Linked DNA regions of Homo sapiens: region 1 is linked to region 2. Evidence: fine-mapped expression QTL. A gene starts in region 2. The other region holds a variant in brackets. All regions are shown on one strand. Distances are from middle to middle.

The links. PIP is the estimated chance that this variant, and not a neighbour inherited with it, causes the effect. A credible set is the group of variants that fine-mapping cannot tell apart.
Region 1: its variant is the best candidate, but not a certain one, in a credible set for the expression of LGALS1 in memory regulatory T cells (Schmiedel 2018, PIP 0.76).

Annotation. Positions count from the first base shown.
Region 1 is chr22:37,876,355-37,881,726 of GRCh38, reverse strand. It overlaps EIF3L (eukaryotic translation initiation factor 3 subunit L), which reads right to left. Exons shown (of 13, transcript NM_016091.4): 11 at 3,556-4,053. Among named protein-coding and RNA genes, the nearest start is that of MICALL1, 27 kb to the left of the region's middle. RefSeq lists a silencer at 1,490-1,649. The variant A/TA (reference allele first, on the strand shown) is at 3,310.
Region 2 is chr22:37,672,337-37,677,708 of GRCh38, reverse strand. LGALS1 (galectin 1) reads right to left here and starts at 2,073. Exons shown (of 4, transcript NM_002305.4): 1 at 1,998-2,073; 2 at 644-723. The coding sequence starts at 2,006. RefSeq lists an enhancer at 1-257 and silencers at 101-610, 2,131-2,270.

The DNA.
Region 1 (5,372 bases), 200 kb before region 2:
TAGAAAACCTGGGCTGACGGCCGTGTGTGGTGGCTCATGTCTGTAACCCCAGCACTTTGGGAGGCCGAGGCGGGCAGATCACCTGAGGGCGGGAGTTCGAGACCAGCCTGACCAAGACGGAGAAACCCTGTCTCTACTAAAAATACAAAATTAGCTGGGCATGGTGGCGCATCCCTGTACATCCCAGCTACTCGGGAGGCTGAGGCAGGAAAATCGCCTGAACCCGGGAGGCAGAGGTTCCGGTGAGCCAAGATTGTGCCATTGCACTCCAGCCTGTGCAACAAGAGCAAGACTCAGTCTAAAAAAAAAGAAAACAATTCTTTTAAAAACCTCATCAGCTCATCAGCGCCTGTAGTCCCAGCTAATCAGGAGGCTGAGACAGAAGGATTGCTTGAACCCAGGAGGCGGAGGTGGCAGTGAGCCAAGATCACATCACTGCACTACAGCCTGAGTGATACAATGAGACTCTGTCTCTAAATAAATAAATAAAAATGAAAATCTCATCAGACATTAAAATGTCCAGCTTGAACTTAAAAGTGCCAGTGAAAACTAACACTGTTCTTCAACCCACCTCCCCTCCTGAGAGGAAGCTACTGCTATGTTGCTTGTGTATCCTTCTGGAAAGAACTTGAGGCATACATAGGCATATATAAATGTATTACTAGCCACTCTGTAAAAACCTTACTTGTATTTTTTGTAATATACAAACCATCCAAACGTTAATCAATGGGAGAATGGATAAACTGCAGTACAATAACAACAGCAGATGCTGGACTATCACAGAACAATAAACATGAAGGAATCACTGCTACACACAATGGACGGTGACTCACTCAATTATAACGTTGAGCAAAAGAAGCCAGACTTAAAGAGTACATACTGTGTAATTCCATTATATAAAGTTCACAAACAGGCAGCACTAATCCAAGATGTTAGACATCAGGACAGGACAGGCGCAGTGGCTCACACCAGTAATCCCAGCATTTTGGGAGGCCAAGGTAGGAGGATCACTTGAAACTAGCCTGGGCAACAAAGTGAGACCCTGTTTCTATAAAGTAAAAACTTAAAATCGGCTGGGAACAGTGGCACATATCAGAGTTCGAGACCAGGCTGGGCAACATGGCCAAACCCCATCTCTACTAAAAATACCAAAAATTAGCCAGTCGTGGTGACGTGCGCCTGTAATCTCAGCTACTTGGGAGGATGAGGTAGGACAATCACCTGAACCCAGGAAGTTGAGGCTGCAGTGAGCTGAGATCACACCACTGCACTCCAGCCTGGGCAACCAGAGTGAGACCTTGTCTCAAAAAAGAGAGCCGGATGCAGTGGCTCACGCCTGTAATCTCAGCACTTTGGTAGGCCGAGGTGGGTGGATCACGAGGTCAGGAGATTGAGACCATCCTGGCTAACACAGTGAAACCCCGTCTCTACTAAAAAATACAAAAAATTAGCCAGGTGTGGTGGCGGGTGTCTGTAGTCCCAGCTACTCGGGAGGCTGAGGCAGGAGAATGGCGTGAACCTGGGAGGTGAAGCTTACAGTGAGCTGAGATCGCGCCACTGCACTCCAGCCTAGGCGACAGAGCGAGACATCTCAAAATAAAATAAAATAAAATAAAAATAAAATAATACCGGGCGCGATGGCTCACGCCTGTAATCCTAGCACTCTGGGAGGCCGAGGCGGGCGGATCACAAGGTCAGGAGTTGGAGACCAGTCTGGTCAACATAGTGAAACCCTGTCTCTACTAAAAATACACAAAATATTAGCTGGGTGTGGTGGTGTGAGCCTGTAATCCCAGCTACTCAGGAGGCTGAGGCAAGAGAATCGCATGAACCCGGGAGGCAGAGGTTGCAGTGAGCCAAGATCGTGCCACTGCACTCCAGCCTGGACGACAGAATGACACTCCATCTCAAAAAAAAAAAAAAAGCTTTGTGCAGTGGCAGTATGGCCAATGAGGGTTATGTGAGGTGTGATTATTGCTAACTAAAAATAAAAAAATAAAGAAGGCAGCAGGACAATGGCTTCCCACTTGTAAAGTACTCCAACAGTATACAAAGCACCATCCCCCTTTCTCCAATCTCATCTTCACAGCCTCCTTTCTCAGGCTACTCGGGCATACTACAACTGTCCCTTAAACTTATTGGCCTCACTCCTCTTCGGGGCCTTTGCTCTAACTGTTCCTCTGCCTGGAAGGCTCTTCCTCCAGATATCTGGTGAGCTATTTTTTTTTTTTTTGAGACGGAGTGTCGCTCTGTTGCCAGGCTACAGTGCAGTGCAGCGATCTCAGCTCACTGCAACCTCCGCCTCCTGGGTTCAAGTGATTCTCCTGCCTCAGCCTCCCGGGTAGCTGGGACTACAGGTATGCGCCACCATGCCCAGCTAATTTATTTTTAGTAGAGATGGGGTTTCACCATGTTGGCTAGGATGGTCTTGATCTCTTGACCCCATGATCTGTCCATCTCGGCCTCCCAAAGTGCTGGGATTACAGGCATGAGCCACCGTGTCCAGCCTTTGGTGAGCTATTAAGAACTCTCCACCAGATGGATCGCTTCAGGTCAGGAGTTTGAGACTAGCCTGGCCAACATGGCAAAACCCTGTCTCTACTAAAAATACAAAAATTAGCCAGGTGTGGTGGCGGCCTCTTATAATTCCAGCTACTCAGGATGCTGAGGCAGGAGAATTGCTTGAACCTGGGAGGCGGAGGTTGCAGGGAGCCGAGATTGCACCACTGCACTCTAGCCTGGGCGACAGACCAAGACTGTCAAAAAAAAAAAAAAAAAAACCAAAACACTACTCCCTCACCTCCTTCAAGTCTTAGCTTAGCTTAAACTTCACTTTCTCAACAAAGCCTGTCTGAACACCGTATTTAACATTGCAACCTGTGCTTCCCACCACCTCTGCCTTCCTTTACTCTGCAGTGCTTGGCAACTTCTTACTACATAGTTTGTTTAATTATAACATCTATTGTTTAATTATAACATCTATTGTTGGTAATCCCAGCACTTTGGGAGGCCAAGGCTGGCTGATCACCTGAGGTTGGGAGTTTGACACCAGACTGACCAACATGGAGAAACCCCATTTCTACGAAAAATACAAAATTAGCTGGGCATGGTAACACATGCCGGTAATCCCAGCTACTCAGGAGGCTGAGGCAGGAGAATGGCTTGAACCTGGGAGGCGGAGGTTGCGGTGAGCCGAGATCGTGCCATCACATTCTAGCCTGGGCAACGAGAGCGAAATTCCATCTCAAAAAAAAAACCAAAACAAAACCATCTATTGTTTATCTCTTGTGTTTTTTTTTTTTTTTTTTT[A/TA]ATAGAGAAAAGGTCTCACTACGTTGCCCAGGCTGGTCTTGAACTCCTGGGCTAGAGTGATCCTCCCACCCCAGCCTCCCCTAAAGTACTAGTATTACTGGCATGAGCCACCACACCTGGCACCTTGTGGCAGCACCACAAGGCCAGGAATCTTTTTGTTCCCCGATATACTTCATGTGCCCACAATAGTGAATGAAAGATACTGAACACTTAATACAAGACCCCAAGCCCAGGGGACAGGCATACCTTATCAATGTAGAAGTCAACCTCTGAGGCTGACTGAAATTCACCATCCAGGGCTGAGATACCGCTGGTCCACACGAGGTTCTTCATCTTGTGTTTGAAGACAAGAAGCTGGATCCGGAACTCCTGCTCTGTGAGGTCCAGGAAGCCAGCCAGCTTGGCCACAGGCATGGTGGTGTAGAGCTTCAGGAAGCTGCGGATGGTTGAAAGCTGGGCCTGCTGCTGTACTTCATCAGAAAACACCTTCAGCTGCTGCAGGAAGGGCTCTTTGTGGTAGTTGGGGTGCACATTATCATAGTTGGGCACTACAGGCGACAGGAACTTGGGGCAGGAGTAACTGAAAAGTTCTTCATAGACTTGTGGGTCACCTTTCTGCATGCGCAACATCTTGTCCCCATATTTCTCCCGCAGCTGGAGGTGAATGCTCTCATCAATACGCATGGGGTACATCGTGAGGGCAATGGCCAGCAGCGCATGCATCTGCTCATTCTGCTTGTTAATCTGGGGATGGGGTGGAGAGTGGTACTGGGTCAAATGAGACGGACTTCCTGAGGTCCCCACTGCCAACTGGCCTCACCATTCTCTGCACAGATCTTTGACTTACCCAGTTGTTTCATACCAGCCATTGAACTTCCCCAACATCTCTTCCAATCCTCCCTCTAGATCTACCTAACTTCCATCCTAGCTCCAGATCCTCCTTAGCCATCTTCTGGATTCCTTACTGGCACCTCTGTCTTAGTCTCTCCAGTTTGTCCCACACATCACTAGCAGGTCAATCCTTTTACACAGTTAGGATCGAGTTACCCAAAACCTTTGATGCAACCTTGATGACGACAGAAATATAGACTAAATAGTAATGTGCCGTGCAACAGCGTTTCAGTCAACAACGGGCCATGGGCCACATATAGGATGGTGATCCTGCAAGATTATAATCCTGTATTTTTACTGTATCTTAGATACACAAATACCTTTGTGTTACAACTGCCTATGGTATTCAGTACAGTAATATGTTCTAGACGTTTGTAGCCAAGGAGCCATAGGCTATACCATGTAGCCCGGGTATGTAGTAGGTTATCCCATCTAGGTTTGTGTAAGTACATTCTATGATGTTCACACAACAAAATCACCAAATGATGCATTTCTCAGAATGTATCTGCAGCATCAAATGACACAGGACTATACTTTACCTGGGTTAATGAAGGTTCTCAGAATCTAATAACCCAATTCCTACTACCTACTTGCCCTCCAGCCAGAACAGTTTATTGTGCGGCTGCATCACCACACTTTCAAGTCTCAACCACTTTGCTCATGATATTCTCTGCCTAGGAAGCTCCTCCCAATTCTTGAACCCATCCTCCTTCCCACCAATATCCACACCTTATATCAAAACATTTAGAACCCAGTGAACACTCAGCATACTGATGCTGAATAAATAAATGTAGGCACTGCTGGAGGATATAACTGAAACAAAAGATATTATCATCAAGTCCTTATCATCAAGATGTTAATGATCTGAGGTAACAGGCATCACAACAGAAACTCCTAAGAGTATGCTAGCCATTAAAAGTTCATTTTGGCTGGGCGTGGTGGCTCACGCCTGTAATCCCAGCACTTTGGGAGGCTGAGGTGGATGGATCGCCTGAGGTCAGGAGTTCGAGACCAGCCTGGCCAAATAGTGAAACCCCATCTCTACTAAAAATACAAAAATTAGCTGGACATGGTGGCACGCGTCTGTAGTCCCAGCTACTCAGGAGGCTAAGGCTGGAGAATCACTTGAACCCAGGAAGCGGAGGTTGCAGTGAGCTGAGATTGCACCACTG
Region 2 (5,372 bases):
AGGGTTTGGTTGAAATGAAATTAGTGCATGAGAAGTGTGCGGCTCTTAACAATATCAGCTGATCCTCATCCTCCTCACTGTCACTGCGCCAGCCGCATCTCACTTCCTCCACACAACCACCTCCCCCCTTGTTTTTCTAACAAACTGAGGCTAGGTGAGGTTGGTTGACTGGTCCAAGGTCACCTAACTGCCGAGAAAATAAGGCAGCCGTCTGAGTGAATGAGAAGTGAAGGAAGAAGGACCGGACTGAGCCAGTGAATGAATGAATGACCAGACGCAGGAAGGAGGGACTCAGGGGGAAGGCGGCGGTGACGCCCGCCCCACTCCTCTCCCCGCCCTCCCCAGCGACAGGTCCCGCCCAGACCGGAAAGGGGTGGGGGCGGGGGAGTCAAGGTATTACAGATGACGAGGCTGCAGCTGGTTTAGTTTAAGAGGCTACAGCAGGGAGGGAGCGGGGGAGGGGGCGGCAACGGTGGGGGCGCCCAGACCCTGCGGGGGAAGTGAGTCACCCAGAAAACGCAGCATCGGCGGCTGGCCGTTAACCCGCTCCCGGCCAGGGAGGAGATGTGGGCTTGGCCGGCCACGCCCTCCCTGCTGGACCAAGCCCGTCCCTGCCGCCCACCACCCCGACTTCACTTCTCACCTCTTAGCGTCAGGAGCCACCTCGCCTCGCACTCGAAGGCACTCTCCAGGTTTGAGATTCAGGTTGCTGGCGACCAGACCCTGCACAGACAAGCCCCGGCCCAGCCGGGTTAGAGGACAAGGCCTCCACTGCTCGAAGTGTCCGGGGGTGGCTGGGGGTGGGAGTGGGGTTGTTCCCGCCCGGCATCCTCTGACCAAGCCAAGGGGAAGCCTGGGGAAAGGATTGAGCTGTAATTTCCAGCCTCCGATTGTCTATGTGGTCCTGGGAAAGTCCCTATTCCCACCGGGGTTGGCTTCAGTCTGTAACGTGAAGGTTCTAGAAGACAGGCTCTAGAAGATTTTGCAGATTGGCTTGGGAATTTTGGACTCAAGAGTGACTTGGGAGATGGGGTGCTCTGTCCCATCGCAGATGGAGAGGATCAGGCTGGGGAGGGGCCGACACTTGGCCCACCGTCACACTGAATGGAGGGGCCGGCCCCTCTGCTGGAGAGGAAGTGGCTAGGGGCGGGCGACCCCACTATTCTCCTTCAAGCCCCTCTCTGCAAAGAGGCCCAGGGGCTAGAGAGGAGACCCTGAAAAACACGGCCTCTCTGCATTAGGGAGAATAGCCCTGCAGTCGGGCTGTGGCTGGGCTGGCTCAGGGTTAACAAGATTGAGCAAACTGCTGGGCACTGCTGTTCCCTGGCACCCCGAGTGGGTGGGCAAGAGTTAACTGGTTTGAGTGGTTTCTTCTGCCAGAAACTTGAACCCTTTCCCTGGGGCCCGAGGAAGATTCTCACCTCCCTGCCACCCCAACCTCCCAGCTTGGGGGTGGTGGAAGGGAATTTCCCCCGCCCCCCCCGCCACCAGCCTGGACACAACCACCCTCCACCCCCGACCTAGAAGGGCCCATCCTGGGCAGCTTGTCTCGGGTCCTGGCAACTTTTCAGCGTTCTCTGGAGCAGAGGGTAACTCTGCCCTGGCCTGGTGACCGGGACAGCTGCAGGGGGGAGGGGACAGGAGGCTCTTTGGGGTGGAGGAGGGGGAAAGGGATAGTGGCCTGGGTGTCCCCCAGTTGGCCACACCCTTCCCACGCTCACTTCTCAGAGAGCTGCAGAATGTCAACCCTGGGCAGAAATAACTGTGCTTTCAGACCCTGGAGGAATCCAGACAATTATCAATGCAGAGAAGGCCTTGAGGGACCATGGCGCCCACCCCCATTTTACAGATGTGGCCACTGAGGTCCAGAAAAGAGAAGGCACTGGTTCCAGGCCACACAGCTGGGGCTAGAATCTGCTCCCGATCTGCCCAGCTCTCCTCTGGCCATCAGTTCCTGCCCTATCCCCTGGACCTTGGGGGGGGGTCCCCACACTCACACAAGCCATGATTGAGTCCAGGAGGATGTTCCCGGGCAGGCGCACCAGCTGTCAGAAGACTCCACCCGAGAGAGATGGGCCCCCGGACGCTCCCACCCTTTTAACTGGACCGGACCGGGTGAGCCCCGCCCCCTGAAAGTTCAGCCAATTGCAAGTCAGGATAGGGCTGGGGGCCACTGGGGGCGGAGTCCGTGGAATTTTGAAGCCAGTTTTGGAGCAGAGGTGACCAATCAGAGTGGCGAGCTGCTGCCCCCCCTCACCCCGCCGCCCCCGGCCAGAGTCCAAGCTCCACCTCCTATTCTCCTTCATCCCTCTCCACCTCCCCACCAAAATTGTGCTGTGGCAGAGATTGGGGGAAGCCAGTGGAAAATAGTTTGATGATGAGCTAGGCCCACAAGTTGGCGGGAAGGGGCCTGTGGCCAGCAGGCTGGGCTCAGGGGGTGCCCAGAGAAGATGGCTGAGGAGGTGCAGGGTCCTTCAGGGAATCAGAGCTGGGGGAGACCAGGCCACTCCCGGGCAGGGACCAGGGCGTGGCTCCTGCTGCGTGCGCGTCTGCAGAGGGCCACTGACTTAACCACAGGCCCTGGCCCCACCCGGGCCTTCCCCGGAAGCAAGGACTGCGGCTGCTGCAGCGCTCTCTCGCTGGCTCCTCGGGAAGGCTAAAGAAAGGCTGGGCCGGGCGCCAAGCCTGAGGCTGCAGGGCTTGGCTAAGGCCTCGGGCTTGGCCGCGTTCAGGGGCAGGCAGGGGATAGTCAAAGCGCCCTGGCCTGACAGCCTCAGGCCTGAGAGTGTCAAGCTTAGGAGATGGCCCAGGGTGGTCCAGACCAGGAGGGGGTGGGGTCCTGGCTCTGTGCACCCTGTCCTTTCTCTTTTTTATTTTTATTTATTTATATATTTATTTTTGAGATGGAGTCTCGCTCTGTCGCCCAGGCTGGAGTGCAGTGGCGTGATCTCAGCTCACTGCAACCTCTGCCTCCCAGGTTCAACTGATTCTCCTGCCTCAGCCTCCCGAGTAGCTGGGACTACAGGCCCCCACCACCACACCCGGCTAATTTATGTACTTTTAGTAGAGACGGGGTTTCACCACGTTGGCCAGGCTGGTCTCAAACTCCTGACCTCAGTTGATCCACCCGCCTCAGCCTCCCAAAGTAATGGGATTACAGGTGTGAGCCACCATGCCTGGCCACCCTGTCTGCTCTCTTAACATCTCCTCTGAGGCCCGGCACAGCCCTCCCTTCCCTGAGTGTTCAGCAGGTATTTTACTGAGCACCTACTATGTACCTGGCCCTGGGCTCTGAGGATTCAAAGCTGAACCCCTCCCAGTCCCCACTCTCAAGGAGCGCATAGTTGGGGTGGAATCTGACCACAACCACGTTAAGAAGTAGATGATGGGCTGGGCGCAGTGGCTCACGCCGGTAATCCCAGCTCTTTAGGAAGCCGAGGCGGGCGGATCACCTAAGGTTAGGAGTTCGAGACTAGCCTGACCAACACGGAGAAACCCCATCTCTACTAAAAATACAAAATTAGCTGGGCATGGTGGCATATGCCTGTAATCCCTGCTACTCCTGAGGCTGAGGCAGGAGAATCGCTTGAACCCAGGAGGCAGAGGTTGCAGTGATCCGAGATCAGTCTATTGCACTCCAGCCTGGGCAATAAGAGTGAAACTCAGTCTCAATTAAAAAAAATAAAAAATAAAAATAAAAATAAAAAGAAGTAGATGATGATGGCTGTAAGGGAAGCCATGAGAAAGTGCTATGGTGGGCTGGCGGCTGCATGAGTAAAGGAGGTGGGTCGTGAAGGGTAGGCGGAGAAGTGCCTGGCTTTCCACCATGGGCAGAAGCTCCAGAATGAGAAGGCCAGGGCTGGAGAACAGTGTTCCGGGCATGTGGGGGAAAAACGGGGATGAGGCTGGGAAGCCAACAGGACCTGGACCATGGAGGGCCTCATGGGCTGGGCACAGGGCTTGGACATTGTTGTATGGGAGGAGGCTGGGGAGCCAGGGCTAGAGGGAGGGTGAGTACTGAGGCCAGATTTGGGCTCTAGGGAAGATCACTGTGGCAGAGAATTGAGGGTGGGTGGGAGGGGTGCTCACCTTACACTCAGGAACCTGGTGGAGGAAGGGGCGTGGGGAGCACTGGGCAAAATGAGGGGCATGCTGGGGGGTTGTCACGGGGACCTCCTTCTCCACCTGGCCGTCCCCCTTCTGAAACTGCTGGCACCAAAGAGGGACGAAGATGCGGACCAGGAGTGACTCACATCTGGAAGCCAGGCCAACACACCCACCCTGCCTCTCAGGGGCACCTTCCTCCAGATGCCCAAAGCCCACTCTGGTACAGGATGAGAGGGGAGTGTGTAGGGCCGCAAGGCGGACCCAGAGAGGGGATGGGGTTGCACCCCTGTGAGTGCCTTACCCCTCCTTCCAGACCAAGTGGCTGCTTGGAAACCAACCACAGCAGCTTCACTTTTTCCTCCGGGCCTCCCCAAAACCTCAACCATAGGAAGGGCTGGATGGGGCCCAGCCTAGTTCCACTGCCCCTCCCCCATGCCTCCCCTCTCTGCCAGATCAAGGAATGGGGCATCTCAGGCGGAGTCCTAGACCGAGGGTCAGAGGCGCTTCAGGTGTGGTCCTCGCCGGGCTGCGGGCGGGTGGGTGTGGCCACTTTCCCAGCCCAGCCCAATAATTGGGTTCTTGTAGCCTCAGGAGCTGCTCCTGCATCCTCCTCCACCCTGGAAAATGGGCCCGGCATCAGGGACTGTTTGCTGTTGGATGGAGGGACAATTTACTCCTCTGCAGCGTCTGGCATGAGTGGGGCTGGCAGGGAGGCAGGGTGGCATGGTGAAGAGGTCCCTAGAAAGGCCTATTTGGGAGTCTAGACACGCGGGTGCTGGCCCTGCTTGCTATGTCCCCTCAGAGCCTCCTGGCAAGCTGCTTCTCCCACTTGCCTCAGTCTCCCTATCTGTAAATTGGGGAGATGAAATCCTGCTTTCCTTGCACGAGGTGAATACAGGGTGGAACTGAGGTCTGTTGTACTAAACAGATGATTCGTGTTTTCATGGAGGCTCAGAAGGTTTTCACTTCCTTCTTGTCTCTTCCCAGGCTGTTACCTTCCCTAGGTCTTTGCAGCACCTCTGGGAGGTCTACATGTCATGCCCAACAGGTCCCCAACAGTCTCCTCTTGCCGAGGTTGGGGCAAGAAGTCTCTCCAGATTCCAGTGTCCCCTGTGACAGGAGCTGCGGTTTTCCTGGCGGGGAGGGAAGGCAGGGACACAGGTGCATCGTGGGCCTCCTCCCCCTAGTCCTCAGGGCCTCCTAGTGGCAGCGCCCACTTATCTTGCCAGGCCCTGTGCCCGGCGCCTTGCTTTCATTATCTCCCC